Regions from separate parts of the Homo sapiens genome. Here region 2 is linked to region 1. The links come from fine-mapping of genetic effects on gene expression. A gene starts in region 1. The other region holds a variant in brackets. All regions are shown on one strand. Distances are between the middles of the regions. Region 1 holds the start of FARSA (phenylalanyl-tRNA synthetase subunit alpha). Region 2 overlaps SYCE2 (synaptonemal complex central element protein 2).

Region 1 (3,020 bases):
TGCATAAATTTTTTTTTTTTTTTTTTTTGAGACGGAGTCTCGCTCTGTCGCCCAGGCTGGAGTGCGATCTCGGCTCACTGCAACCTCCACCTCCCGATTCAAACAATTCTCTGCCTCAGCCTCCCAAGTAGCTGGGATTACGGGTGCCCACCAACACGCCTGGCTAATTTTTTTTTGTATTTTTAGTAGAGACAGGGTTTCATCATCTTGGCCAGGCTGGTCTTGAACTCCTGACCTCGTGATCCACCCGCCTTGGTCTCCCAAAGTGCTGGGATTACAGGTGTGACCACTGCACCCGGCATAAATTCTAATTACTATAATTATTTTTATGGCTATTACTGTCATTAGATTGAACCTCACCTCCTTATATTATTTAACCCTCTGTGACGTATACAAATGTCAGATCATATTGGTCAAGGCACTGTCACCCCACACAACACAGCTGCCATCTCTCCTCTGCATTGAGGACTATGGGCTCTGCAGCCTGAGTGCCTAATTTCAAATCTGGGCTCATCGGCCTCTTCTATTCACACTGATTATGTTACTGACCATCAGTTGTCACATCTGCAAAATGGGAATAACATGGCCATCAGCCAGGATTATGGAATGGATTGGACAAACAAGCTGAGACCAAAGTGGGGCACAGAACATGAGCTCTACGGATAAACAGCCCAGATCCTGGCCCCATGGATCTAGCCTTCTGGGTGGCCCACGGGCCCCTCAGCATCCTACGCCTGTGACTCTGTCACTGTCCACTTGCCCAAGTCAGAAGGCTGGACTTCATCTGTGCGCCCCCTGCCTTGTCCTGAATCCCACGCCTTCCCCACCTCCCCCAAGCTTCCTTCCCATAGCCAGACATCATGCCCTCCAGCTTGGGGAAGTGCCAGCTTCTTCTTTCATCCCTTCACCTCCAGTCCTGTCCATGCCAATTCTTCCCAAAGGTGATGTGGATAGCACACTCATCTGACCGGCTCTAGCTCCTGCTATCGCTTCCCAGTTCCCTCATGAGGTAAAGACCTAAGAGGCTTTGCAATTACAGCTATGCTGGTCTCCCTTGCCGCCTGCCATCCCCCAAGATCCCGGCCACTGATCTCTAAAGTGCTATCACTTTCCTCAACAGAGAACAGACTCAGCCGTCACCTGCACCAGGCCGCTCTCCCTGACCCCCAAGGCTGGGTCAGCTGTCACAGCTGGGTCCCCTGTTTTCCCCCATCACTCTGGTTCTTGAAGCACCTTCCTATTACGTCGCAACCTGCGTGAGGGCAGCAACCGCGACTTCCTCGTCCATCATCGTACCCTCTACCCACGCTGACCGTGCCTCAATAAACGTTTATTGCATGAGGAACATCCGTGCGTCTGGGCCCTCACTCGTCCCACTTCCCGCCCGCACATCCCGGAGTGGACACATATACAGCTACCCCAAACTAGGCCTGAGGGAATTTGGCTTGGACGTAGAGCGCCCGTGGCAAGGGGACTGTAGGTGCAAGGGCAAGGCGGTCCGGCATCACGGGCCCGGCTCACCTCGCCCAGCGCCTGAAGGCTCTTCACGGCGCCCACCACCGCCTGGTGCTCCATGCCCAGCTCAGCCGCCAACTCGGCGCTGTCCAGGCCGCCATCAGACGCCTCCAGCCGCCGGAGCAGCAGTTCCGCCACCTGACCATCCGCCATGACTCCTTCCAGTGTGCTCAGCGTGTCCGGGCCCGGGTGGGCGGGGGGAGCTGAGCCACCGGAACCGGAACCGGAGTGTGTACCGCCATCTTGAATGTGTCTAACTGTAGAACAGGGCTCAATGTGTCGTCATCTTGAGTGTGGCGACGGAGCCGCAAAAGGTGCATGGGACTCAGTTCCCACCTCCACCCTGGCTCCATCAATGGCGTCTGGTTGACCAGAGGGGTAAAATTGATTATCTCAAGGTCAGAAGCACCGCCCTGTTTTGAGTTTTATCTAGCCTCACTTCGAGCGGGCTGTGTGACCTTGGACTTCCCCGTCTCTGGGTTACAGAACCCTCTGCCCTTCTGGTATTCTCTCTTGCCCTAGGAGAGGCGGTGGGTGGTGGGCTCCAGAGATGGTCATTTTGGCGATGTCAGCTACTTTTAAAATTTCAAAGGAAGGCTGGGTAGGTACCGTCCCTTTTTATAGAGGGAAAAGGAATTCACCTAGTAAGTCAAGGTGGCACCTAACCTGTGTGGACTACCTCGTATGTGGTAGTACTTAGCCCAGAACTGAGTACTTCACGTGTAGTATTTCATTTATCCCCAAAACTTTATGATGTAGATACTGATATAACCGCATTACACATGTGAGAAAACTGAGGCTCAGAGGGTGGTATGACTTGCCCAAGGTTCTACAGAGAGTTGGTGGAAATGAAGTCATAAATTATAAACCTTCCAGATCCTCCCACCCCTGTGCGCTGAGAGTAACGTCAGTGCAAATACTGCATGGCCTAGATTAGCACTGTCCTATAGAAACACAGTGCAAAACATCTTTCTTTTTTGAGACAGGGTCTTGCTCTGTCACCCATGCTGGAGTGCAGTGGTGCAATTATGGCTTACTGCAGCCTTGACTTCCCAGGCTCTAAGGATCCTCCAACCTTAGGCTCCTGAGTAGCTGGAACTGCAGGTGCGCGCCACCACACCCAGCTTTTTTTTTTTTTTTAAGTATGGGTTTTGGCCATGTTGCCCAGGCTGGTCTCAAACTCCTAGGCTCAGGTTATCCTCCTGCATCGGTCTCCCAAAATGCTGGCATTAGAGGCATGACCCACCTCGCCCAGCCAGCCAGACCCTGACTCTTACAAAAAAAAAGATGACTAATAAAATATTTTGCACTCGGCCGGGCACAGTGGCTCACCTCTGTAATCCCAGCACTTTGGGAGGCCGAGGCGGGTGGATCACCTGAGGTCGGGAGTTTGAGACCAGCCTGACCAACATGGAGAAACCCCGTCTCTACTAAAAATACAAAATTAGCAGGGCGTGGTGGCGCATGCCTGTAATCTCAGCTACTTGGGAGGCTGAGGCAGGAGA
Region 2 (2,500 bases), 24 kb before region 1:
CCCGGTTCTCAAATGAAACAGCTCCTACCACAGTCACCATGACCTTGTGGTTAGACCGATAGACATCTCAGAGTGACATGCTGACCTCTTGGCAGCAGCCAGCACTGCTGACCACCCTTCCCTGCTACTCCCGACATGTGGTATCCCAGAGGTCTGTGCTTGGGCCTCTGCTGTCTTCTTGCCAGACACCGTCAATCACACACTTGTTCTGCAGTGAGGCCTCCATGCCTCCTCCCTGCTGGCCCCTGCAGCTAATATCCCAGCCACCATTCCACAATGCACAGGCTATTATTCTCCAAAGGCATTCATTCCCGTAGCATGGGATCCCTGAACAGTCCCCTTTCCCACCTACGTCCTGTCTCCTCCAGAAAGTGTTCCTTGGCTGGATTAGGTGCACACAGCACCTACGGTTTCACTGTTTACACCTTGGCCTCCCACTGTAGTCTGCTGAAGGGCCAGGGCCATCCTTCATCTTTGTATCTTCAGTACTTACCCCTCATGAGAGAAGCAATAAATGTGCTGCTAATAAGTAAATGACTTGCGAGTACTATCCATTACCATCCACACTTTGGATTCTATCATCTAAATTCTATCATCCCAGCCCATGCCTCTCTCCTGAGGACCCAAGAATATATGAAACCTCCCAGCCTCCCCACATGGCTGTCTCAAAGGCATCTGAAACTCCACATTTGCACAACCAAAAGCGTCATCTCCCAGGCAACCCGATTTCATCTTCCATTCCCTTAGTTAATGACATAAAAAGCCACCTGGTTCCCAAGCTCAAAACTTAGCAGCAAGCCTAGAGTCCAGCTTCTCTCTGTCCCTCTGCATCCTGTCTCAAAATCCCCTCATTTCTACCTTCTTTGTTTTTTTATTTTTATTTTTAATTAATTTTTTTTTCAGATGGAGTTTCACTCTTATTGCCCAGGCTGGAGTGCAATGGCGCGATCTCGGCTCACTGCAACCTCCGCCTCCCGGGTTCAAGCGATTCTCTTGCCTCAGCCTCCCGAATAGCTGGGATTACAGGCATGTACCACCACACTTGGCGAATTTTGTATTTTTAGTAGAGACGGAGTTTCTCCATGTTGGTCAGGCTGGTCTCAAACTCCCGACCTCAGGTGATCCGCCCTCCTCGGCCTCTCAAAGTGCTGGGATTACAGGCATGAACCACTGTGCCCAGCCTTTTTATTTATTTGTTTTTGAGACAGAGTCTTGCTTTGTTGCCCAAGCTAGAGTGCAGTGGAGC[G/A]ATCTCAGGTCACTGCAACCTCCAACTCCCGGTTTCAAGCGATTCTCTTGCCTCGGCCTCCCAAGTAGCTGGGATTACAGGCACCTGCCACCACACCCAGCTAATTTTTGTATTTTTAGTAGAGACGGGGTTTCAACATCTTGGCCAGGCTGGTCTCCAACTCCTGACCTCGTGATCTACCTGCCTCAGCCTCCCAAAGTGCTGGGATTACAGGCGTGAGCCACCATGCCCGGCCCTACCTTCTTAATGTCTCTAAATCTACCATCATTAGCAGCTCTATAACTTTCACTTCTCAACTAGGCCATAGGGACCTTTATTTTATTTACTTATTTATTTTTGTAAAAAATTTTGTAATAAATTTTATGTTAAAAAATTTTTTTTTCTTTTGTAAGAAATTTTCTTTTGTAAAAAATTTTGTTATTATTATTTTGTTTTTGAGACAGACTCTCACTCGGTCGCTCAGGCTGGAGTGACAGGCTGGAGTGTCGCTCAGGCTGGAGTGGTGCAATCTCAGCTCACTGCCACCTCCACCTCCTGGGCTCGAGTCATTCTCGTGCCCCAGCCTCCTGAGTAGCTGGGACTACAGGCACACACCACCACGCCCGGCTAATTTTTGTATTTTTAGTAGAGACAGGGTCTCACCATGTTGGCCAGGCTGGTCTCAAACTCCTGACCTCAAGTGATCCGCCTGCTTCGGCCTCCCAAAGTGCTGGGATTATAGGCATGAGCCACCACGCCTGACCTTTTATATATATATATTTTTTTTGAGATGGAGTCTCGCTCTGTCCCCCAGGCTGGAGTGCAGTGGCACAATCTCGGCTCACTGCAAGCTCTGCCTCCCGGGTTCATGCCATTCTCCTGCCTCAGCCTCCCGAGTAGCTGGGACTACAGGCGCCCGCCACCACACCTGGCTAATTTTTTGTATTTTTAGTAGAGGCGGGGTTTCACCATGTTAGCCAGGATGGTCTCAATCTGCTGACCTCATGATCCGCCCGTCTCGGCCTCCCAAAGTGCTGGGATTACAGGCGTGAGCCACCGCACCCGGCCTGACCTTTTTTTTTCTTTTGAAGGCAGGGTTTGCTACATTGCCAAGCTGGAGTACATCAGTACAATTACTGCAACTTTGAACTCCCCCAGGCTCAAGTGATCCTCTCGTCTCTGCCTCCTGAATATCTAGGACTACAGGCGGGTACCACTACTCCTGGCTAAATTTTGTTTAATTTTTCTGTATAGATGGAGGTCTTGCTATGTTAC

The links. PIP is the estimated chance that this variant, and not a neighbour inherited with it, causes the effect.
Region 2: its variant is the best candidate, but not a certain one, in a credible set for the expression of FARSA in lung (TOPMed, PIP 0.63).

What each region holds. Positions count from the first base shown.
Region 1 is chr19:12,932,029-12,935,048 of GRCh38, forward strand. FARSA (phenylalanyl-tRNA synthetase subunit alpha) reads right to left here and starts at 1,683. Exons shown (of 13, transcript NM_004461.3): 1 at 1,522-1,683. The coding sequence starts at 1,668. It overlaps FARSA-AS1 (FARSA antisense RNA 1), which reads left to right. Exons shown (of 3, transcript NR_149078.1): 2 at 942-1,009; 3 at 1,121-1,268. RefSeq lists enhancers at 1,286-1,355, 1,366-1,865, 1,587-1,881 and a silencer at 2,918-3,020.
Region 2 is chr19:12,908,684-12,911,183 of GRCh38, forward strand. All of the region lies in intron 2 of SYCE2 (synaptonemal complex central element protein 2), which reads right to left. Among named protein-coding and RNA genes, the nearest start is that of SYCE2, 9.4 kb to the right of the region's middle. RefSeq lists a cis regulatory region at 1-308 and a silencer at 2,094-2,262. The variant G/A (reference allele first, on the strand shown) is at 1,247.